7 linked regions of the Homo sapiens genome follow. The protein of the gene in region 1 purifies or fractionates together with the protein of each later gene. This does not show direct contact. Each region holds a gene or a part of one and is shown in the gene's direction. Other genes may lie near its edges.

The links.
Region 2: the proteins of TNFSF13B (region 1) and PIGQ purify together in Homo sapiens (affinity purification with mass spectrometry; 3 studies listed by BioGRID and IntAct, with this or other methods). This does not show direct contact.
Region 3: the proteins of TNFSF13B (region 1) and MAP3K5 purify together in Homo sapiens (affinity purification with mass spectrometry; 3 studies listed by BioGRID and IntAct, with this or other methods). This does not show direct contact.
Region 4: the proteins of TNFSF13B (region 1) and IPO9 purify together in Homo sapiens (affinity purification with mass spectrometry; 3 studies listed by BioGRID and IntAct, with this or other methods). This does not show direct contact.
Region 5: the proteins of TNFSF13B (region 1) and MON2 purify together in Homo sapiens (affinity purification with mass spectrometry; 3 studies listed by BioGRID and IntAct, with this or other methods). This does not show direct contact.
Region 6: the proteins of TNFSF13B (region 1) and TMEM131 purify together in Homo sapiens (affinity purification with mass spectrometry; 3 studies listed by BioGRID and IntAct, with this or other methods). This does not show direct contact.
Region 7: the proteins of TNFSF13B (region 1) and FHIP2A purify together in Homo sapiens (affinity purification with mass spectrometry; 4 studies listed by BioGRID and IntAct, with this or other methods). This does not show direct contact.

The regions. Positions count from the first base shown.
Region 1 is NC_000013.11:108,300,718-108,304,217, forward strand, and holds part of TNFSF13B (tumor necrosis factor ligand superfamily member 13B), read left to right. Parts: intron 1-2,058; coding exon of another isoform or gene 2,059-2,176; intron 2,177-2,535; coding exon 2,536-2,648; intron 2,649-2,736; coding exon 2,737-2,887; intron 2,888-3,500. UniProt on the Homo sapiens protein: Cytokine that binds to TNFRSF13B/TACI and TNFRSF17/BCMA. TNFSF13/APRIL binds to the same 2 receptors. Together, they form a 2 ligands -2 receptors pathway involved in the stimulation of B- and T-cell function and the regulation of humoral immunity.
Region 2 is NC_000016.10:579,968-582,288, forward strand, and holds part of PIGQ (phosphatidylinositol N-acetylglucosaminyltransferase subunit Q), read left to right. Parts: intron 1-215; coding exon 216-296; intron 297-890; coding exon 891-1,005; intron 1,006-2,280; coding exon 2,281-2,321. UniProt on the Homo sapiens protein: Part of the glycosylphosphatidylinositol-N-acetylglucosaminyltransferase (GPI-GnT) complex that catalyzes the transfer of N-acetylglucosamine from UDP-N-acetylglucosamine to phosphatidylinositol and participates in the first step of GPI biosynthesis.
Region 3 is NC_000006.12:136,558,478-136,561,977, reverse strand, and holds part of MAP3K5 (mitogen-activated protein kinase kinase kinase 5), read left to right. Parts: intron 1-332; coding exon 333-445; intron 446-3,101; coding exon 3,102-3,178; intron 3,179-3,500. UniProt on the Homo sapiens protein: Serine/threonine kinase which acts as an essential component of the MAP kinase signal transduction pathway. Plays an important role in the cascades of cellular responses evoked by changes in the environment.
Region 4 is NC_000001.11:201,856,657-201,860,156, forward strand, and holds part of IPO9 (importin-9), read left to right. Parts: intron 1-439; coding exon 440-538; intron 539-1,790; coding exon 1,791-1,897; intron 1,898-2,198; coding exon 2,199-2,338; intron 2,339-3,500. UniProt on the Homo sapiens protein: Nuclear transport receptor that mediates nuclear import of proteins, such as histones, proteasome and actin. Serves as receptor for nuclear localization signals (NLS) in cargo substrates.
Region 5 is NC_000012.12:62,469,826-62,473,325, forward strand, and holds part of MON2 (protein MON2 homolog), read left to right. Parts: intron 1-875; exon of another isoform or gene 876-953; intron 954-3,500. UniProt on the Homo sapiens protein: Plays a role in regulating membrane trafficking of cargo proteins. Together with ATP9A and DOP1B, regulates SNX3 retromer-mediated endosomal sorting of WLS away from lysosomal degradation.
Region 6 is NC_000002.12:97,985,949-97,989,448, reverse strand, and holds part of TMEM131 (transmembrane protein 131 precursor), read left to right. Parts: intron 1-3,500.
Region 7 is NC_000010.11:114,842,280-114,845,779, forward strand, and holds part of FHIP2A (FHF complex subunit HOOK interacting protein 2A), read left to right. Parts: intron 1-653; coding exon 654-947; intron 948-1,461; coding exon 1,462-1,658; intron 1,659-3,087; coding exon 3,088-3,202; intron 3,203-3,500. UniProt on the Homo sapiens protein: Required for proper functioning of the nervous system.

The DNA.
Region 1 (3,500 bases):
AAAATATTCCCTTCTTTGGGAAAAGCCAATTAGACCTGCCCATATCAAGGCACATTCACCCTTGGTGAGAGACAGTGACAGAGGTGGCTCCTGGGAGTGAGCAAGAAGCACAGGCCGACAAGAACATGTGCTGAAGAAGACCTGGGAAGTTTCTTGATCCACCCATAGATCCTCCATCCTTCCTCTGCACTCTCCCTGACATCTTTCCTCCCTCTGTCTATGGTAATAGGAACTCAAAGATCTGACTAGGGAAATGTTATTTATTTCAACTTGAATTTACAATGTAATTTGCTTGGTTATCACCTAGGATTCTTACTCCTTAGAAACAATCAGAAATATGTGGTTCTTATTTTATATTCTTCCCTCCATAATCTTATTTGGAATGGGAATATAAATTAGTGTAGCCATTATGAAAAATAGTACACAAGTTTCTTTAAAAATTAAAAATAAAATACCATATGATCCAGCAATCCCACTACCAAGTATATATCCAAAGAAAATGAAATCAGTGTGTCAAAGAGATATCTCTCATCCAGGTACTAACCATGCCCAACTCTGCTTAGCTCCTGAGGTCAGACAAGATAGGGTGCATTCGGAGTGGTGTGACCATAGAAGAGATAACTGTACTTCAATGTTTATTGCAGAATTATTCACAATAGCCAAGATATTAAATCAACCTAAGTGTCCATCTGCAGATGAATGGATGAGGAAAATGTGCAATATATACACAGTGGAATACTATTCAGCATAAAAATAAGGAAACCCTGTTGTTTGCAGTAACATGGATGAACTTGGGGGACATTATAACAAGTGAAATAAGCACAGAAAGACAAATACTACATGATCTGACATATATGTGGAATCTAAAAAAAGTCAAATTCAAAGAAGTAGAGAGTAGAATGGTGTTGACCAGTGGCTGGGGTGGCGGGGGTGGAGGTGAAAAGACGTTGGTCAAAGATTACGAAATTTCAGTTAGACTGGAGGAATACGTTCAAGAGATCTCGTGTACAACATGGTGACTACAGTTAATGAAAATGTATTTTTGAAAAATGCTAAATGAGTAGATATTGTGTTCTCACCACAAAAATGACAACTGTACGAGGTAACATATATTTTAATTTACTTGACTCAGTCATTGCACAATGCCTATATATTTCAAGACATCATGTTGTACATGACAAATATGTACAATTTTATCTGTCAATTAAAACATAAGATCAAAAAAGAATTTTATTTGGAAAAAGTTTAAATATGTTTGGTTTGCCTTGGAAACACTATGTGAAGAAGGCATGTACACTTGGCAGTTGTATTTACAGAATGTGAACACACTGTTAGCTACCACATCATCCTGTGCCCCTCATGAAAACCCACAGGAAAAAATATTCTTTAATCTCAATTCTAGAAATATTGTTATCTTCTTGGGCTTCTAGCCTATTGTCTGTTGTGGATTCTGAATTTTATTATCAATTTTGTTTTCATTTTTGCTATGATCAGGATGAAATTTGGAGACAGGTATGGTTCACCATTACCAATTATATAGGGACATTTAAAGTATGATTTTAGACTAACTTCTATAGCTCTATTTTACTATTTTATCCTTATATTACAGTCCCTCAATCTTCTTTTTATTCATTTTACATCATTTAATTTATACTCCCCAAATTTCCCAATCTCCAGCCTTAGGGCTCACCCTTTATTCAACACACCCATGAGAAATCCAGGGAATGTAAAGTATGAATTCACAGGAAAGGAATGTCTCTGCTCTCTTAATGGGTTTTGATGTCTGAACGCACCTACAGATTCTGGCTCAGCAATGTAGTCCCCCCATGTGCCTACTCACTGATGGCTACTGTCTTCTCTCTGTCCCTTTCATCTCACCCTTGAGCACAGTGGTCTCCTTGTCACTACCCAAGTGACTTTTGATGGGTAATGGAGGAGAATTATCACTGAACTGAACAGAAGCCATTGAAACTCAAATATCATAGATGGTTGTTACAAAGTTCCTTGACCGTTCTTAGTAAAGGTTGTGTCTTAGTCACTTTCTTCTTTCTTCCGTAGGCTCCCTTCTGTTGCCACATTTGGGCCAAGGAATGGAGAGATTTCTTCGTCTGGAAACATTTTGCCAAACTCTTCAGATACTCTTTCCTCTCTGGGAATCAAAGGAAAATCTCTACTAGTGTGTTATTCAGAGAAATTTTGTCCACTCTTTGCTTCAAACTCTCTTATCCAGATCAGCCTTTATTATGAAATAGCCGAAATATAGACCAATAAAGGGAAAACCCAGACATTCATATAAAGGGTTAGCTCTCAGGTTCTTGTATCTGATATATTAACCCAGGTTAACATATAAGTGATGGCAAAGAATCCAGTGCAGTAATGTGACTTGTATTCCTTTTTCCTTTTTTTTCTTTCTTTCTTTCTTTTTTTTTTAGGATGGAATTATCTTCTAAGTTTCAGAGGTAGCTTAACAACTAAATGGAGGTGAAAACTGCTTTTCTTGGTTTCTTTCCTTATAAATGATTCTCTTCATTGCAGGATCTTACACATTTGTTCCATGGCTTCTCAGCTTTAAAAGGGGAAGTGCCCTAGAAGAAAAAGAGAATAAAATATTGGTCAAAGAAACTGGTTACTTTTTTATATATGGTCAGGTAGGTTGAAACCCTAATTCTGGTTTTACTGTTCAAAGCCTCCCATTTTGTGTTCATTTCTGACACAGTTTTTTGGTTTGTTTCTTAGGTTTTATATACTGATAAGACCTACGCCATGGGACATCTAATTCAGAGGAAGAAGGTCCATGTCTTTGGGGATGAATTGAGTCTGGTGACTTTGTTTCGATGTATTCAAAATATGCCTGAAACACTACCCAATAATTCCTGCTATTCAGCTGGTAAATATTAGTTCTCACACCCTGCTAATTGTGAAATGAAGAGACTTTGACGAAAAATCTGAGCTGCAAAATGCAAAAATGAAAGGATGGTGCCCTAAAATACAAATAGACAGAAAGACATTCCTCAATATATTGTGTTTTTTAAATCTTGAATAATAAGCTAGTCTGTTTTAATTGAGAAAGATGGAATTATTACTAATAGTTTTACCATTTTTATATACATTTAGAAAGGGTAGTAATTTCATAGCAACTTCTACCTTGTACATAATACATGGTACATAGTACTTCTACATAGTAACTTCTACATTGAGAAAAAATTCTAATGTATTTTCTTCAACACTTAATAACAACAATAATAATATCTGACAAGGATAGAGTGATTACCACTTGCCAGGCACTCTTTTCTGCATGTTATATATGCTTGCTTATTTAATCTTCGCATTTAAGGGAGTTAGGATCTAGGCACAGAGAAGTAACATAACTTGTCCCAGGTTACACAGCTAATTTTTAGACTTGGTTTAAACCAGCCAGTCTGGCTCCGCACCGGGAGCAACCAAAACTCTTCTTGCATGCTGTGGAAGAAATGCCCCTGGCCAGGCTTGAGGGTAAGGGA
Region 2 (2,321 bases), on another chromosome or scaffold:
TGGCCCCCACCTGTCTCCCTGCGAGTCCCCTAGTCCGTGGGGTGTGGGTGGACAGCCCTCCTGCTACTGGGACTGCTTCTGAGCAGGCCATCCCGAGTTCCCTCAGGAAGCCGCAAGGTCCCGACTGCAGCTCCGGGATGGGGGAGGGCACAGTGCTGGGCCGTCCCTGGGCGCGGGGTCCTGCTGATGCCCGGTGTGCTGGCCCCTCCCTACAGCTGTTCATCGGGACTCTGCTCTTCACCATCCTGCTCTTCCTCCTGCCTACCACAGCCCTGTACTACCTGGTGTTCACCCTGGTGAGCTGAGCACCCACAGGCTGGGCCTGGCTGCAGTGCTCTGTGTGGCTTCTGCCAGCGCTGCCTGGGAGCAGTCAGCTGTGGGGCGGGCTGTCTCCTGCTGCAGGCCACGTGGGTGGCCTTTCAGGACCCTCTGGGCAGTGAGTGCTGCGCTCTGGAGTGGGCGAGGCCCTATCCTGGCCAGTAAGACACCCTCACTGCCCTGGAGCACGCAGCTGGGTGCGTGGTGGAAGGACCCCACGGCAGGTGGGGTCACGCAAGAGGCCTCCCCTGGTGCCTGGCACTGGGGCAGACAGTGGGAGGTGAGCAGAACCACCTCCAGCACCTGCTTGATTCCCAGGCCTCGATCCCCTCTGCATGTGAGGCTGTGGGGAGGCACCTCTGACCTGGTGAGAGGGCCGGGTGCTCCGCCTCCAGCTTTGCTCCAGAGCAAGGCCCAATGGCAGACTCCGTGCCCTGCTCAGGGTGGGGTCCCTGCTCTCCCCAGGACCCTGCAGCCTCTGGGCCCCCTTCATCGTGGCCCAGGATGGGGTCGGACTGCTCTGCCCCCAGGCGCGTCTGGCCGGGCCGGTCCTAAATGCTCCTCTGCCACAGCTCCGGCTCCTGGTGGTCGCCGTGCAGGGCCTGATCCATCTGCTCGTGGACCTCATCAACTCCCTGCCGCTGTACTCACTGGGTCTTCGGCTCTGCCGGCCCTACAGGCTGGCGGGTAAGTGCTGCGTATTGGGCAGCTGGCCCTGGGTAGGTGGAGGGGAACCACACCTGTGGGCCCTGCAGAAGCAAGGACAGCATGGGCCACTGTGCCTCCAGCCTGGAAGCCGTGGTATGCATGCGCAAGCGGGCAGGGAGGACAGGGCCTCCTAGTCCCAGAGGTCTGCAGGACCAGCTGCCTCCAGGGAGGTGGAGAGAGACTCAGAGACTCACCTGCCGCGCAGGTTCAGAACCCTGGAGACCTGAGGCCACAGGCCTTTGTTCTTCTGCCTTGGGATTTTCTGGGCTTGGGAGTCTGAACTGCAGGCCAGGGGCCAAGCGCGGCAAAGTCAGAGGCACTAGGAGCCAGCAGGGCGGCCACCATCCAGTAAGTGCCCCGTCCGCTGTGCCGGAAAACCCCGTCCACTCAACAGCACAGCCTGCGCCCGTCCCTCACTGGGGCTCTTCCCTGCTTGCCGGACACCTGGCTTCTTTCAGTGGAGTCTGCAGGAGGCTTTTTTTTTTTTGAGACGGAGTCTCACTTTGTCGCCCAGGCTGGAGTGCAATGGCGCAATCTCGGCTCACTGTAATCTCTGCCTCCTGGGTTCAAGCGATTCTCCTGCCTCAGCCTCCCGAGTAGCTAGGATTACAGGTGTGTGCCACCACGCCCAGCTAATTTTTTGTATTTTAGTAGAGATGGGGGTTTCACCATTTTGGCCACGCTGGTCTCGAACTCCTGACCTCGTGATCCTCCCACCTCAGCCTCCCAAAGTGCTGGGATTACAGGCACGAGCCACCGTGCCCGGCTTTTTTTTTTTTTTTTTTTTGAGATGGAGTCTTGCTCTTTTTGCCCAGGCTGGAGTGCAATGGTGTGATCTCAGCTCACTGCAACCTTCGCCTCCCTGGTTGAAGCGATTCTCCTGCCTCAGCCTCCCAAGTAGCTGAGATTACAGGCACACGCCATCACACCCGGCTAATTTTTGTATTTTTAGTACGTATGGGGTTTCACCATGTTGGCCAGGCTGGTCTTGAACTCCTGACCTCATGATCCGCCCACCTCCCAAAATGCTGGGATTACAGGCGTGAGCCACCGTGCCTGGCTGCAGGAGGCTTTGATGCCGGCCTGGCAGCCAGCTCCAGGAGTTGGGCGACGGAGGGGGCGGGGAGAGCTTCGTGGGTGGCCACGGCCAGCAGCACCCGGGTGCCCCTCAGAGAGGAAGGTACCTGCAGCCTCTGCTCATGTGTGGGGCCAGCCCCCACGCGTCCCCTCGTCAGCCGCTTGCTATCCTTGCAGCTGGCGTGAAGTTCCGTGTCCTCCGGCACGAGGCCGGCAGG
Region 3 (3,500 bases), on another chromosome or scaffold:
TCTCTGCTAATTGTATTCATCTTTATTGCATGAAAAACACAAAGTCTAATTTTGGTGCACAGAGTTTATTCTAAGAAACCATAAAATTGATATGAAAGTGTAACGTAGGAGTGTCATTTCATTATTGCTTTTGCTCCTTATTTACTAGTAAATTCACTTCTCTGAGTTTTATTCATATTATCATCTATACTGCCAATCTCAATTGTTTCTATGAACTGTTCTCTGATAGAGCAAAATCTTTTAAAGTATCAATAAATGTCTGTTGATTGTGAGGGTCTCAGATGACCTCTGTTAGGTGAAATTAAGAATATCTTCCCAAAATTCTGTTCTAGAAATTCCTGAATTGCCTGTATTTCATCTAAATTCTTCTGGCACAAATACTGAAGATTCTGAACTTACCGACTGGCTGAGAGTGAATGGAGCTGATGAAGACACTATAAGCCGGGTAAAGAAAACTGTCTGTGGGACAAGTATTCTTTCACTTCGTTTCATAATGTTGGGTGCCTGCTATGTGACAGGCACAGGGGATACACTGGTGAGCAAATCAGACCCAGCCCTGCCCTCCTGAGGCTTACAGACCAGGGTAGGCACGTGATAATCAGCTAACTCCACAGATACAAATGTGATTCTACACTGGTAAATTCTATGAAGAAAAAGGTATCAGGTGTTTATTAGATAGGGCGAGAGAGGTTGGGGAAGGTTGTTGGAGAAGGGAATGAAAGAGCTGAAGGCTAACAGAATGTGAGGGTATAAATAGGCCAATTGTATGTATGTTCAGGAGGGGTGTGGGAGGGAGACCAGGGAAGAACCTTGTGCAGTGGGGCTGCAGTGTGTACAATCCAACGAGGCAGGCAAAAGCTCTGTGGTCCTGAGCCCCTTAGGAATTTTATGTATTTGAAATGAAAACCAGAAAGAGTGGGAAAAAAATAAAGACAGGACTAAAAGAAAAAATTTCTTGTTTCTAATTCTTTGTATGTTAATTTTTATTTTATTTTATTTTATTTTATTTTATTTTATTTTATTTTATATTTTTTTGGAGACAAGGTCTCGCTCTGTTACCCTGGCTGGAGGGCAGTGATCATAGCTCCCTGCAGCCTTGACCTGCTGGGCTCAAGTGATCCTCCCACCTTAGCCTCCTGAATAGTTGGGACTACAGACATGAACCATCATACCCAGCTAATTAAAAAAAAAATTTAGAGATAGGGTCTCGCTATGTTGCCCAGGCTGGTCTTAAACTCCTGGCCCCAAGCGATTCTCTCACCTCAGCCTCTCAGAGTACTGGGGCTACAGGCATGAACCACCACGCCAGGCCTGTTTGTTAAATTTTTAATTCTTTTTCAACATTATTAGATTCCACTGGGCAGCAGCTATTTTATTGCTACTTAATAAAATCAATCTGGTCGACTTATTTCAGAAATATTTTCTATACAAACCATATTTTACCTGTAATAATCTAATTCCTCTCTGCTCTGTATAGACTTTTTTTGATTTTGTTTTTTGAGACACAATCTCACTCTGTCGCCCAGGCTGCAATGCTGTGGTGCGATCTCAGCTCACTGCAATCTTTGCCTGCCAGGCTCGAGAGATTCCCTGCCTCAGCCTCTCAAGTAGCTGGGATTACAGGCATATGCCACTAAGCCTGGCTAATTTTTGTACTTTTAGTAGAAACAGGGTTTCACCATATTGGCCAGGGTGGTCTCGAACCCTGGCCTCAAGTGATCTGCCCACCTCAGCCTCCCAAAGTGCTGAGATTACAAGTGTGAGCCACTGCGCCCAGCCCCTATAGACTTTTGTAATGAGCGTGAATAGCATTTGTTTATGTTCATTATATGAACACACAGGCATACATTAAAACATTGTAATATTTGATAGAAAGACCCTCTTAATACAATATTGTTTTGTTTTATATTTAAATTTTAAAAATAAATAAGAATAAAGATATCTCTTCTTTTGACTTGATAATTTATTAACTAAGTAGAATTTCGGGCCGCCTTAGAAATCTACATTTAACAAGTTACAGCTGAATAAATTTAAACAACTCCAGAATATACATTCCTCTAACTTAGGCTCAAATCCTAATTAAGGAATAGTAATTGATAATCTACTAAATAATCACCCTTTTTATTTGGTTTAAAAGTAAAAGCTTGAGGCCAGGTGCAGTGGCTCCTGCCTGTAATCCCAATACTTTGGGAAGCATAGGCAGATTGCTTGAGGCCACGTGTTGGAGATTAGGCTGGTCAATATAGTGAGACTGTCTCTATATATAAAAAAATAAATAAAATTTAAAAATATAAAGGTGCAGTTTAAATTAAGACTCTGCTTTTATGGTGAATTACAGTCAAGTGCCTTTGCTTAACCATGAAAAAATAAGTTCAGAAATTAAGCATAGGCAGTACCTTTCCAGGAACACTTTTTATCCACTTGAGGAAAAACAAAGCTATGTAGCATTGAACTTCTAAATACAAGATTTGCTTTTGAACAGCAGAGTGATTACAAGTGAGTCTCATCTGTTCATTAGAAGACCATTCAGAAGTTCTGTGTCACTTGTAATCTTTTTGCATTTGGAAGTTAATATGGATGCATTTCTTGTTTTTGTTTTTGTTTTTGTTTTTGTTTTTGTTTTTTTGAGACGGAGTCTCACTCTGTCGCCCAGGCTGGAGTGCAGTGGGTCAATCTCAGCTCACTGCAACCTCTGCCTCCCGGGTTCAAGCGATTCTCCTGCCTCAGCCTCCCAAGTAGCTGGGATTACAGGCATACGCCACCACGCCCAGCTAATTTTTTGTATTTTTAGTAGAGATGGGGTTTCACCACTTTGGCCAGGCTGGTCTCGAACTCCTGACCTCAGATGATCCGCCTGCCTCAGCCTCCTAAAGTGCTAGGGTTACAGGCGTGAGCCACTGCGCCCGGCCTGGATGCATTTCTTTGTATTTATTGAGTAACAGGGAGGCCTTTCCCCTAATAATCCTGGAAGATTGTGTTTTTAGTAGATTTCATTTTTAGATTCATTTTTAATTATAGTCAAGGTTTACATTATGAATAGAGTTTGTGCTTTATTAAAGTTATATAAAACATCTTTTGTGCATATTCTACTTTCTCTACAGTTTTTGGCTGAAGATTATACACTATTGGATGTTCTCTACTATGTTACACGTGATGACTTAAAATGCTTGAGACTAAGGTACCACTTTTCTTTCTGTTGTCACTATGGAAAGAGCACCAGGCAAATATCAAAAAGTCTGAGTATCTTCCCAGGCTGGGTCTCTAATTAGCTTTGTAGTTCTGGACAGAGCTCTCTAGCTCTTAGCTGCTCTGAGTAAACTGAGTTAGTTGGACAATGATATTTTTGAGGGCTCTAATAACCAATATTTCTATATTAGTAAGTGAAAATCAACTGGAAGAATTTTTTTGAATAAGATGCAGACTAAGTCCATGCAGATATTCTGAAGCTGCCTTAAACAAATGCTTTAATTGAGTTCATGATGGTGTTATACTCAATAAAT
Region 4 (3,500 bases), on another chromosome or scaffold:
TTTGTTTCAGTTTTTGTTGTTGTTGTTGTTTTGTTTTGTTTGCTTTTTGGGACAGGGTCTTGCTGTTTTGCTCAGGCTGGAGTGCAGTGGTGTAGACAAAGCTCACGGCAGCCTTGACCTCCCAGGCTCAAGCCATCCTCCTGCCTCAGCCTCCCGAGTAGCTGAGACCACAGGCATATGCCACCATGCCCAGTTGACTTTTTTATTTTTTGTAGAGGTGGGGTCTCACTATGTTGCCCAGGCTGGTCTCAAACTCCTGGGCTCAAGCAGTCCTCCCACCTTGGCCTCCCAAAGTGTCAGGATTACAGTTGTGAGCCATTGCATCCAGCAAAAGGCTAGAGTTTTTTCAGGATAATAGGTTGAAATCTTCCTGTATCTGTTGATGAAAAGCTATGAATCAGATTGGCAGCATCACAAAGACATAACTTGATCTTTTCAGATTAAAGTATGGACAGCCAACCCCCAACAATTTGTAGAAGATGAAGATGATGATACATTCTCCTATACTGTTAGAATAGCAGCTCAAGACTTGTTGCTGGTAAGTTTACCTTGATACTTCAGCCACATAATTTCTATCAGTCACTTGAGCATTTCTTCTTTTTTGTAGACAACTAATCCAAGGTGAGCAGTGTTGTTGGGTGGCTTTATCTCAGACTTTATTGGGGATGCAAGAGAGTTTCTGAAATGAAATTCGAGACTCAGAAATTCTAAAATCATTGCTACTGGTTCTAACTTAAAACTAAATATTAGATAAAAGAATTGTGCAGACCATAGGGCCGGGGTGCGGGGGAGAATTGTATAGAGGATAAAGTGTTCCATGGAGTAAGGGTAGTTGAATCAAGAACATTTCAGTTTATGGCTGGGCGTGGTGACTCACACCTGTAATCCCAGCACTTGGGGAGGCCGAGGCGGGCAGATCACCTGAGGTCCAGAGTTCAAGACTAGCCTGACCAACATGGAGAAACCCCATCTCTACTAAACATACAAAATTAGCCGGGCGTGATGGCGCATGCCTGTAATCCCAGCTACTCGGGAGGCTGACGCAGGAGAATTGCTTGAACCCGGGAGGCGGAGGTTGTGGTGAGCCAAGATTACACCATTGCGCTCCAGCCTGGGCGACAAGAGTGAAACTTGGTCTCAAAAAAAAAAAAAAAAGCCATTTCAGTTTAATTCACTCTTCAACAAGAATCTATAGCACAGACAAAAGGTTGGCAAACCTAGCAAAACAAAACAGATTGCTGAAAGATTAACATCCAAATACCTGCTCATGTTTTCTTTGCCTCTTCTGACTAGAGCATAGAGTTGTCTCTAGGCTGAAATACTAAGAAGAAACTGCCACTTGCTTCTTGTTGGGTAGGAGATTTGTTCTCTGTTGATGAATCACTTCTCATTATCATTTAGTATTTCTAAGGAGCTGTGAAAGATTATATTCAGTTCCAATTAGTAGATTAGACTTATTTTTCTATCATCAGTCTCCAAGAGAGCAAATATTTGGTCCATTGTCATCCAAAGCTAGATCTATTATTGCTCACTTATGCTCTGCTGAATATAGCCAAAGGAGCCAACTGGTTAGCCTTACAATGCCTAGGCACTACCGAAATACAGATACTACTTTAATTTCATTAGAGACCCTGACCTACTGGTATAACATTTTTAATACAATTAGGGGTTTGCACATGTATGTGAAAGAGCTTGAACCAATCACTTCTAACAGTCATGACTGAAGCGGTTTACAATTAAAATGCATTTAATGGGCACAAACAGATTTATTAGCTCTTCTCTCTCTATAGGCTGTGGCCACAGATTTCCAGAATGAAAGTGCAGCAGCCCTGGCTGCTGCAGCCACTCGACATTTACAAGAAGCTGAGCAAACCAAAAACAGTGGCACTGAGCACTGGTAAGAGTGAGCCGCTAATTGGTTAAGATGCTTTTGTTTACCCCTTCTTAAAAAGTCTTGAAAGGATGGATTTATTTTTATCTTAATTTGAAAATCTGGTTTTAATTTAATAACAGATTTTAATCTCTTATTATTAAAATTTCACTCTTTTCAGCTATAGGTTAGAATGGAAGGGCTTAAGGTAAATGACTCTTTTGGAAGAGATTGTGCTGGAGTGCCCTTTTCTGAATCTTGTTTCCTCAAATATTTATCTCTTTTGGCAGTTTAGTATGTTTTACTAGGCTGTAGTATCCTTTCACAGGTGGAAGATCCATGAGGCATGCATGCTTGCCCTAGGCTCAGTGAAGGCCATCATCACTGACAGTGTGAAAAATGGCAGGATTCATTTTGACATGCATGGGTTCCTGACCAATGTCATCCTTGCAGACCTCAACCTCTCAGGTATGTTTCAGCACGTGCCAGGATTCTAGAAACTCTTTAAACCTGTTGTGGGGTTGGGGGAGGGATCAGCATTAGGAGATATACCTGATGTAAGTGACAAGTTAATGGGTGCAGCACACCAACATGGCACATGTATACATATGTAACCTGCACATTGTGTACATGTACCCTAGAACTCAAAGTATAATATATATATATATATATATATATATAAAGGAAACTCTTTAAACCTGTCATTAACTTGGTTATATTGTTCACTTAGACTGGTAGGCCAGATATTCTTGTGTCCTTTGAGTGAAAATTGTTTGCACCCTACAGCTTGAACTCATCCGAACCTCTAAAACAGCCCAGAGGCCGATTCAAGCTTCACCTAATGACAATCTAATATTGCCTAGTTCATAATTCTTCCGTGATGTTTATGTTTCTTCCCAAATTGGCGTTCCCATTCATGGTTGTTTTTGGCATTTGAATGGAATCCAAATCTGGTTGCTGTACCTTGAGAATTATCGAGTACTGCTCCCATTGTTAAGTCCAGAATGCCCTCAGGCATTCTGTATCAGGCACATTCTTCCTGTTTGTTTCCTGTCATTTTTCTCAAACTTTATTTTTGGCCAATATCCAAATAATTAAAATGTTCCATTCTCATACCCATGTTAGCCATCTGTCTTAAAAAGAAAAAAGTAGGCCAGGCGCGATGGCTCATGCCTCTAATCCCAGCACTTTGGGAGGCTAAGGCAGGTGACTCACCTGAGGTCAGGAGTTCAAGACCAGCCTGGCCAACTTGGCGAAACCCCATCTCTACTAAAAATATAAAAATTAGCTGGGTGTGGTAGCAGGAGCCTGTAGTCCCAGCTACTCAAGAGGCTGAGGCAGGAGAATCACTTGAACCAGGAGGCAGAGGTTGCAGAGAACTGAGATCACACCACTGTATTCCACCTTGGGTGACAGAGCGAGACTTGGTTTAAAAAAAAAAAAAAGGTAGCCCTTTACTATTAGACCGATTTCTTCCGCAATACAGAGCAGTAGCTGAGAATCATTGTTGTCTATGTGGCATTTTCTGCTACTTGCTTCTGCCATGCCATGCCTTTTCTCATCCTTGGAGCCAGATCACCATCCGAAAACACTGCCTTTGCTTTCTCTCTCAGTACTTAAATCATGGAAC
Region 5 (3,500 bases), on another chromosome or scaffold:
TTTATTTCAAATTTTTAGTCATTTCTGTCTTTTATGGCCATAGTGCTTGACTATTATTTTATTTATTTATTTATTTATTTATTTATTTATTTATTTATTTGAGACAGGATCTCTTTCACCTAGGCTGGAAGTGCAGTGGCAGGATCTTGGCTCACTGCAGCGTTGACATCCTGGGTTCAAGTGATTCTCCCACCTCAACCCCCTGAGTAGCTGGGACTACAGGTGCATGCCACCACACGCAGCTGATTTTTGTATTTTTTTTGTAGAGACAGGGTCTCACCATGTTGCCGAGGCTTGTCTCCAACTCCTGCGATTAGGCAATCTGTCCACCTCCTACTCCCAAAGTGCTAGGATTATAGGCGTATCCCAGGCTGCCCATGTAATTCTTTTTTAAAATTAATAATAAGCTGGATTTAAAGATTTCAAATCTGTTAGAAAAACCAATAAAAGAGTATTGATAAAGAATAGTGCTTTATTTACTGATATTTACTTACTGTCTTTGGACTTCTACATGGTTTTTCCTACCTTACTGTTTTCATTTATAACTCTATCCTTTGTATATTAAATTGTTGTTGTAGTGGCTATGGCTTTATTCTGTCATTTTATAATAACCTCTTTCTCTTTTTTTCTATTTTTCTTAGTTGTTATACATAAATCTTCATGTTTTAGCAGTATAACTTTTTTTAGTACAACTGTACTAGCTAATTTGGGAATATTGTATGAAATTTTTTCCTTTGTTTTAAAAATTACTTTGAAGCCTTCCATGATCACTTCTATGTGATTAATATTCAGTGGCCTTTAGAGGAAGACAACTCTGAAGCTTTATGTTTATGTATTTCATGAATAAAAACTTTCTTATTATTTCCTATTTGCAGGTACAGATGAGGGGTATCTAACTGAGCCTGGAAGTTGGAGGAGGGGAGTCATTCCTAGCAGAGGAAATAGCACACGTTGTTAGTATTCCATGTAAAATAAATTTTATACTGAAGATGATTGGAGCCATTAGAGCTTTTTGAAAGAGAGTAATATGATCAAATTGATATTTAGTAACATTGCCTTGACAGTTGGTAGGAAGAATTAGAGGGTATTGAGACTGAAGCAAAGAGAGCAAAGTTTAAAAAATGATGATTCTCTGTTTTGAAGCAGTAGTGGACATAGACAGAAGGTTGCTTGCATTGAGTTAGACAGTAGTGAAAGAGCGTATAGATTGAAAAGGTAAAAATTACCAAGGCATGGTAATCTTTTATATAATGGAGAGAGAGAAATGTGTGATGCCTCCCAGGTTTCTGGCTTGGGAAACTAGGTGGATCACTAAGAGAAGAAATAAAAGAGGAGGAAATGTTTTGGGGGAAAATGAGTAGTCATGTGTGTATATTGTTTGAGACGGAGTCTCTGTTGCCAGGCTGGAGTACAGTGGCACAATCTCGGCTCACTGCAACCTCCGCCTCCCAGGTTCAAGTGATTTTCCCGCCTCAGCCTCCTGAGTACCTGGGATCACAGGCGCGTGCCACCACACCTGGCTAATTTTTTGTATTTTTAATAGAGACGGGGTTTCACCATGTTGGCCAGCCTAGTCTCGAACTCCTGACCTAAGGTGATCTGCCCGCCTCGGCCTCCCAAAGTACTGAGATAGCAGGCGTGAGCCACCACACCCAGCAGAGTAGTCATTATATTAAGATTTATGTGTGACATCCAAGTGGAACTGACCAGTAGGTGTTTGAAAATGATGGTTTGGCACTTAAGAGGGAAGTCTGGAATTTCAAATTTAGGAGTATCAGTTTATAAATAATATTTGAAACCATAGAATTGGATGAAATGGGCCAGGAAGAGTGTGTGTATAGAGTGAGAATATCAGGACTGGAAAAGGAACTGTGGGAAACAACATTAAAGAAAAAGGCTGCTGGGCAGACTGAGGTTAAAGATACAGGAGAGAAAGGTAAAACTCGTTAGAGGAAGGTCCTTGAGAAAACTGAAGTTTCAGTGGCATAAGTATATGAACAGGATTTCAATCTGAGAAAGGACACATTACCTTCTGACAGAGGAAGGACAAAGGAAAAACCGGGTTTGAATGTGACAAATTTGACAGAAGGGAGCGACAAGTTGTGGGCAGTTTGGTCTGTGGCCTCTGCTTTCTTGCGAAGATAAGAAACAAGCTTGTTAGTAGGAATAATTAAGTGATAAAAGAAGTAGGGGGTGGCAAGTTTGAGGAGAGCAGTGGATCACTTTGGAGAAGTGGAGGAGAAATTGTCTTGGAACACTTAAGAGTCTTAGCAGGAAGAGTGGTTGAAATAATGGTGGATTGTGAGAGCTAGGTTGGATTCCCAAAGAAGGAAAGCCAATAGTTTGGATTGACTGGATGATGATGGGAAGGTTAAAGGCTAGCAGCACCTATTTCATCAAAGAGCAGTGGGGTTGGGGAGTGAGAGAGCTAGAAGGATAGGAGTTGGGACAATGGTGGGAATATTGCATTTCAGATTGCCCAGCACTAGAGGATGATGAAGTCCAGGGAATGGGTGGTAGAAGAGTAAAGGGAAAGAAGTTCATTTGAGTTTAGGTGGTCAGAATTAGGGAATTGGATAGATTCCTTTTCTCTCTTTTTAAATGATGCAGAATCAGTAAGGGTATAAATAATTTAAAAGTGCAAGTAGTCTTCCTAGGCTATGTAGTTTAAGTTTCCTGTTACCCATTCAGGCCTAATAGAAATTGGCTGGCAGAGAAAAGCAAAGGTTTCTTGTGATAGAGTTCCTCAGTATCCAGGTGTTTTGCTTTGTTAACTGGCTTAGGGAGACCCCTAGTGAAAGAGATGCCTTCTACTTACTGTGACAGGATTTGCCATTTAATCAGATATTTAGGGACTGTGACTAATGTCATTGGCTCTCCTGGTTGGGTTAACACCTCATTTGCACGACCTTATGACATTGAAGATGAGGGCTGGATAATCTTTACGAGCTTACTTGGGATCTGTTTTGGTTTAGTATTTTATAATGTGGTTTCTTCCTCTTGACATTGTGTTCTTTCTCCCATAAGCGTAATATAATATATTCATGCTTTATATATTGAAAGCTATAAACTGAAATAAATGATTACCTGTGCTTTGGTGACAGAAAAAATAAAAGACATATTCTCTAACTTATAAGCCAAAAAGGAAGACATATTTCAAAATTTGATTTATTTTTCTTTTTTCCTTTATGTAAGCATAGCTGAACATTTTCAACCATGTATGAAGTAGAAGGTTTTGCTGTTACTGTTATAATTTAACAGAAATTTATGAGTCTCCTAAAAAAGCACAGCAGGAACACAGAAATAATTGAGAAATTGCCTTTAGTCTCATGAAGTTAACTCAAGGTTGAATAAAATGTTGCCTTCCCACTAGGCTTGGAACTTTGCATCCTTAGACTCTAATGCAACATGCCATATTAAATATTTCATTTTACAGATGAGGAAACTGGTATAGACAGGTTTAGTAATTTGCATAAGGTAGTAAAGCTGGAAAATGGTGG
Region 6 (3,500 bases), on another chromosome or scaffold:
GCTCCTGGTAACCACCATTCTACTTTCTGTGTTTATGAATTTGACTACTTTAGATACTTCATATAAGTAGAATAATGCAGGATTTGTGACCTGCTTATTTTACTTAGCATAATATCTGTAAGGTTAATCCATGTTGTAGGATGTGACAGTTCCTTCCTTTTTTTTTTTTTTGTTTTGTTTTTTGAAATGATGTTTTGAGAATTTATTTACAACCATTGAACACGGATGATTTTGTAAAACTGACAATTACAGGCTCCTTAAACTCACAACATACATATATTTCAATATTTAAATAGCCTGTTTTCTTCAAAAGTAATTTTCTGCTTTTTCATAAAAATATAAAAAAGACAACATTTATAGTTCCTTCCTTTTTAAGGTTGAATTATATTCCATTGTATGGATATACCACATTTTGTTTATCCATTCATCCATCCGTGGACACTAGGCTTGCTCCTACCTCTTGGCTCTTGTGACTAATGCTGTGAAGTTGAGTATGCAAATATCTCTTCAAGACCCTGGTTTCAACTATTTTGCATATCTACCCAGAAGAGAGATTTCTGGATCATGTGATAGTTCTATATTTAATTCCTTAAGCAACCACCACATTTCCATAGTGGTTGCATAATCTCAGAATCCCGTGAATAATGCACAAGGATTCCAATTTCTCCATGCCCTTGCCAACAGTTGTTTTTGTTTTGTTTTGTTTTGATAGTGGTGTGAGGTGCTATCTCATTGTGGTATTGATTTGCATTTTTCTAATGATTAATGATATTGAGCGTCTTTTCATATCCTTCTTGGGCATTTGTATATCTCCTTTGGAGAAATGTCTATTCACGTCCTTTGCCCACGTTATATTCAGGTTTTGTTGTTGTTGTTGAGTTATAGGAGTTCCTTATATATTCTGGATATTACCCCTTATCAGATGATTTGCAACTATGTTCTCCCATTTGGCAGGTTGCCTTTTCACTCTGTTGATCATATTCTTTGAACAAAAGTTTTTGTTTGATATAGTTACTTTTGCTTTTGGTGTCATATCCAAGATATCATTGCCAAATCCAATGTCATGAACTTTTTCCCTATGCTTTCTCCTAGGCATTTTATAGTTTTGGGTCTTATGTTTCGGTCTTTAACCCATTTTGAGTTAACTTTTATTTATGGTGTAAGATAAAGGGTATAACTCTATTCTTTTGCATGTGGATATCCAGTTTCTCCAGTTCCATTTGTTGAAGAGGCTGTCCTTTCTTCACTGAGTAGTCTTTGTGTCCTTGTATGAAAATTAATTGGCTATATATGCAAGGGTTTATTTCTGGACACTTTATTCTGTTTAACTGCTCTGTGTGTCTGTCTTTATGCCAGTACCAGACTATTTTGAATACTATAGCTTTGTAATATGTTTTGAAATAAGGAAATGTGAGACCTCTAACTGTCTTCTTCCTTTTCAAGATTATTTTGGCTATTTGGGGTCCCTTGAGATTCTGTATGAATTTTAGGATGCACTTTTCTACTTGCCTTGGGATTTTGGGATTTTGATAGTGATTGTGTTGAACCTATAGATCACATTGGGTAGTATTGATATCTTAACAGTATTTTAACCCATAAACTTGGGATGTCTTTCCATTTATTTGTGTCTAATTTTTTCAGCAGTGTTTTGTAGTTTTCAGTGTACAAATCTTTCACTTCCTTGGTTAGGTTTATTCCTAAGTATTTTATTCTTTTTGATGTCATTGTAAATAAAACATGCATTTTTGAACTAATGATTTTAATCAGTGTATCATTAATAGTTGTAAATACATAGTTTTTAGTAAACACTCCATATTTGAAACAAGAAAAAATGCTGCGTACTTAAGGTATTTCGTTAATTACCTGCCTATAAAATGAAAGACATTTAAGCCCTCGTTAGTTCTAACAGTTTGTGACTTTTTTTTGTTTTTGTTTTTTTGTTTTTTTGAGACAGAGACTCACTCTGTTGCCAGGCTGGAGTACAGTGGTGCGATCTCAGCTTACTGCAGCCTCTGTCTCCCGGGTTCAAGCGATTCTCCTGCCTCAGCCTCCTGAGTAGCTGGGACTACAGGTGTGTGCCACCACGCTCAGCTAATTTTTGTATTTTTAGTAGATGAGGTTTCACGGCCAGGATGGTCTCGATCTCTTGACCTCATGATCCACCTGACTTGGCCTCCCAAAGTGCTGGGATTACAGGCATGAGCCACTGTGCCTGGCCAATTTGTGACTATTTTTTAAATCAGTTATAATGATTGCAAAGTGATATGGCAGTTTGGTTCTTGAAAGCTGATTTTTTCTGTATAGTTCTAGTATTACATTTGGATCAAAGGATGTGCTAGTTAAAAACTGTCTTGGCAGTGAAGTTTGAGAAATAGCATAGCCAACTTTATGGATTCAGGTTAATTAGTGGTTTGTATTCATGGTATGGCAAGGGCCCTACATGGATTTTCTTTTTAGAGCATGATTAAACTGGGAGCAGAAGATTTTCTAGGCAATTATTCATGGTACAAAGGTGCTCTGTGAAACCTAACTGTATTTATAAAGATCTTTGAGATAGTTTATGTTTGTCATTCCAAAAGTTATTAGGTAGAGCAGTGTACAAGAGAGGGTAGTGTGCTTTCAAACCTTTGGGCGAAATTGGACCACCTTTAGAAATGCTTCTATGGATTGGTGACATGGGCTCATCTGAAGTATTGCTTCTTGATTAGCAAATGGGAAATGAAGTAGTGGTCAGCACTACCAAGAGGTAATGTCTCTTTCAGAATGGGTGCAGCAGTGGTTATGTTTCAGATATAGGGGAGTTCTTAGGTATTTAGGGGTCCACCTCATTATTCTGGGTGGCTTCTGTTGAGTTATGGCTGGGCATGAAAATAGGTTACTGAGAATTGTTTTGAAGAGAGATGTAGGAAGGAAAAAACAGGCAAGGAATTAGGTCCAGTTTTATTGGAATCCTAGAAATTCTTGTTTAAATTGATTGTAAGAATAAAACAGATTATAAAATGCAGATTAATAAATGGTGAAAAACTGTAACCAGTCAAGAACTAACATGAGTCATCCATGTTTTGGTCTCTGTTCCTTCCTCATCTCTCTTCCCTCTCCTCACTCTTTTCCTGCCCCTATTCCCCATTTAAAAAAATAGATACTGCCAATAGTTTTCTTCAAAGGCAATCAATTCACATCTCAACCATACTGTATGCATGTGCTTACTTCCCCACACTGGCTGTTACTCTTTTCTTACCAGTCTACCAATAAAGTTGTCACGTTGTTTTAATTTATTTTAAAACAATTACTACTAAGACTGAATACTTTTATACATTTGCGACCATTTGTATTTGTGTTTGATCAGTCTTTTGTCAGTTTTCCCATTGATGTTTGAATTTTTCTTTTTGACTTAGTCTTTTGACTTTAAGGATTTAATATTTTTCTGAGTTTCTATTTGCATTTGAATTTTTTATTTTCTATTATTTTTATACCTGTCAGGCAACTCTCTTTTTTTTTTT
Region 7 (3,500 bases), on another chromosome or scaffold:
GTCTCGAATTCCTGGGCTCAAGTGATCCTCCTGCCCCGGCCTCCCAAAGTGCTGGTATTACAGGCATGGGTCACTGTGCCCAGCTTCTTGCGTTCTTATAGAGTAGAGGTTTAAGGAAAAACTTAGAAAAGATGCTTATATATTTGAGAGAATTTGGGGGCTTTTGTGGAAACCTTCAGTCTAATGCTGGTAACTTTTGAACTTTAAAATATTTTTATTTGTAAGTTTGTACTTCCTTCCCTGCAAACCACCCCCCCCACCCTATGATCTTATAAGAATTAACATTGAGACTATGTAGTTACAGTAGTCCAGTGATGAGAAAAAAGTTAACTGCAATTGAAACCTCCTGAAACTTTTTTCCTCACTAACATTAGTTGTTTTAAGCAGTAGTCAAATTATCAGTAATACTGTTCATTGCTTATGGTCAGTGTAAAACATTTTGTAGTTAGTATGAGGAGTGTGATAAACTCCTATGCAATGGTAAAATCATTCTAAAACACAGTTTGTTAAAAGTCAGAATATTTTCATGTGACATAACATCTATTGCTACTTTGGCTAGGCATGTGGAATGTTATAGAAAAATCCATTAAAATATTATTTTTGGCTTAAAAAGTTATTGATGTGAATTTTATAAAACATATATTCCTTTTCAGAATAAGATGAAATCATTGGCTTCCAAAGGAGTACCAAATGTAATTTCAGAAGATACATTAAAAGGTCAGGATTCCTTGTCAACAGATACAGGACAGTCCCGTCAACCAGAGGAACTATCTGGTGCTACTGGAATGGAGCAAACAGAATTGGAAGATGAGCCTCCTCATCAGATGGATCACCTGTCCACAAGCTTGGATAACCTCAGTGTCACCTCACTGCCAGAGGCCTCGGTTGTTTGTCCAAATCAGGATTACAATTTAGTGAATTCTTTGTTAAATCTTACTAGAAGTCCTGTGAGTTATGGTCCTTACTTTTTCCCCCCTAACATTATTTCAATAATGTGTATTTATTTATTTTTTTAATTTTAATTTTTAATTTATTTTTTTTTTTGAGATGGAGTCTTGCTGTGTTGTCCAGGCTGGAGTACAGTGGTGCGATCTTGGCTCACTGCAACCTCCGCCTCTGGGTTCAAGCGATTCTCCTGCCTCAGCCTCCCTAGTAGCTGGGATTACAGGTGCACGCCACCACGCCAGCTAATTTTTGTATTTTTAGTAGAGATGGGGTTTCACCATGTTGACCAGGCTGGTCTCAAACTCCTGACCTCAGCTGATCCACCCGCCTTGGCCTCCCAAAATGCTGGGATTACAGGTGTGAAGCTCCACAGTTGGCCAATAATATGCATTTAAAATAGACAAAAATCTATTTTTCTTTTAGTGTGAAACATTAAATCCTTTTATGTTGAATGTTTTCAAACAACCTGATGTATATACAATTCAAGAATTGAAGGGGGATTTTTTTTTCCTTTAGGATGGCAGAATAGCTGTGAAGGCATGTGAAGGCTTGATGCTGTTAGTAAGTTTGCCAGAGCCTGCGGCTGCAAAGTGCCTTACACAGAGCACTTGCTTGTGTGAACTACTGACAGACAGACTTGCCTCCCTGTACAAGGCCCTACCTCAGTCAGTGGATCCGTTAGATATTGAAACCGTGGAAGCAATTAACTGGGGGTAAGCACCGTTACTTGTATTTTCCCATAAAGGTGACTTCTTAACACCTACATTTTAAAATCCATTTCTATTTTGCAATGGTAGAAGTCTTTGAAAAATTGAACACCACTAGTGATCATTAAATGGGAATATTTTCTTGAAGCTTGTATTAATCAGTGGTAATGAATTGGTGTGGGAACAATCCAGCTGTTACATAGTTAAGATATTTTTATTTTGTCCATTTTACTGATCAATTTTTAAGGGCTTACATTAAAATCAATAATTTTAACTGATTATTAAAAACAAAAAACCCTCAAAGAAGGAATCTCCTTTTAAAATAATTTCCACAGCCTCTAGAGCAGTCTAATCTGTCTCCTGGCCTGTTTGTACAGAATCTCTTCTACCTCATTCTTTCACCTCTTCTTCCTACCTTTTAGACTCCCCAACTTGATTATCATAGGGAAATATGATTATTGCAGAACGTTTATAAATTATTAAAAAGTATAAAGCAGCATAAACAAGTTGCCCATAGTCCCACCACCTGTAAGCAGCCTAAGGTTTTGACATAATCACCTTTTATTGTATTTCTCTGTATTTTTAACGTGTCTTTCTTTTTTCCACTCTATTTTCTGTCAACATCTATAGGGCAGACCCACTTGTTAACATTATGACTGTATTGCATTTTAGGGCAGGAAGAGAAGTAGTCCACTCGCTATTTCTGTTTGTAGATCCCCATTTACCGTTCTTTTCTTCCATCCCAGCAGCTGAGAACCTCCATCTTTTCGTTGATGTTACTTGGTAACATTTAGGGCAGGAGTATGAGGAGCTATCCCAGTGTTTTTTCTCCTGCAGCTCCACTGTTTTTTTGTTTGTTTGTTTTTTCTTTGAGACGGAGTCTTGCTCCGTCGCCCAGGCTGGAGTGCAGTGAAGCAATCTTGGCTTACCGCAACCTCCGTCTCCCAGGTTCAAGTGATTCCCGTGCCTCAGCTTCCCAAGTAGCTGGGATTACAGGCATGAGCCACCATGCCCAGCTAATTTTTTTTTTTTTTTTTGTATTTTTAGTAGAGAGAGAGAGAGAGTTTCATCATATTGGCCAGGCTGGTCTCGAACTCCTGACCTCAAGTGATCCACCCACCCACGCACGTTGGCCTCCCAAAGTGCTGGTATTACAGGCATGAGCCACCACACCTGGCCTCCTGCAGTTCCATTCTGCTTTAACCTCTCTTCTCCTACTTAATACGTGAAAATTATTTACAGCTCTTATTTAAAAGATTTTCTCTTATCTTTGGTTTCTTTTACAGAATCCTCTTCTCACTGTCCTCCAGCATTTCCTGTGTGAATGTACCATACTATCTGAGTGTGTTCATGTGCCTTCATTTTTCCATACATTCTGAATAGGGTCCATGCTTTTGGATAACTTTGGACTTAGCAATTCTTCCTTGTCTTACAGCTTGGACTCATATAGTCATAAAGAAGATGCTTCAGCATTTCCAGGAAAACGAGCCTTAATTTCATTTCTTTCCTGGTTTGATTATTGTGATCAGCTCATTAAGGAAGCCCAAAAGGTTTGTAATTTTTTATTGTTTTTTGATCATTTTAAGATATAAATATCTATTAAGTGAAATTGGAATCCCTAATTTATATCCCAAATACATTTTAATTGTCTTAGAATACCATGGTTAGTAAAATAAGTAAACAAAAAAGTGTATATGTGTTTGTATGTGTGTATTACAATTCCAGAATAAATCAAAGTTCAAGTTCTGCCCTTTTATATTTCCTTAAATATTATGGTACAGTACTTTACAAAGTAACACTGATTTCCCTTCAGTCCTGCTCTTTGGTGAGATGTTAATACTATATGGA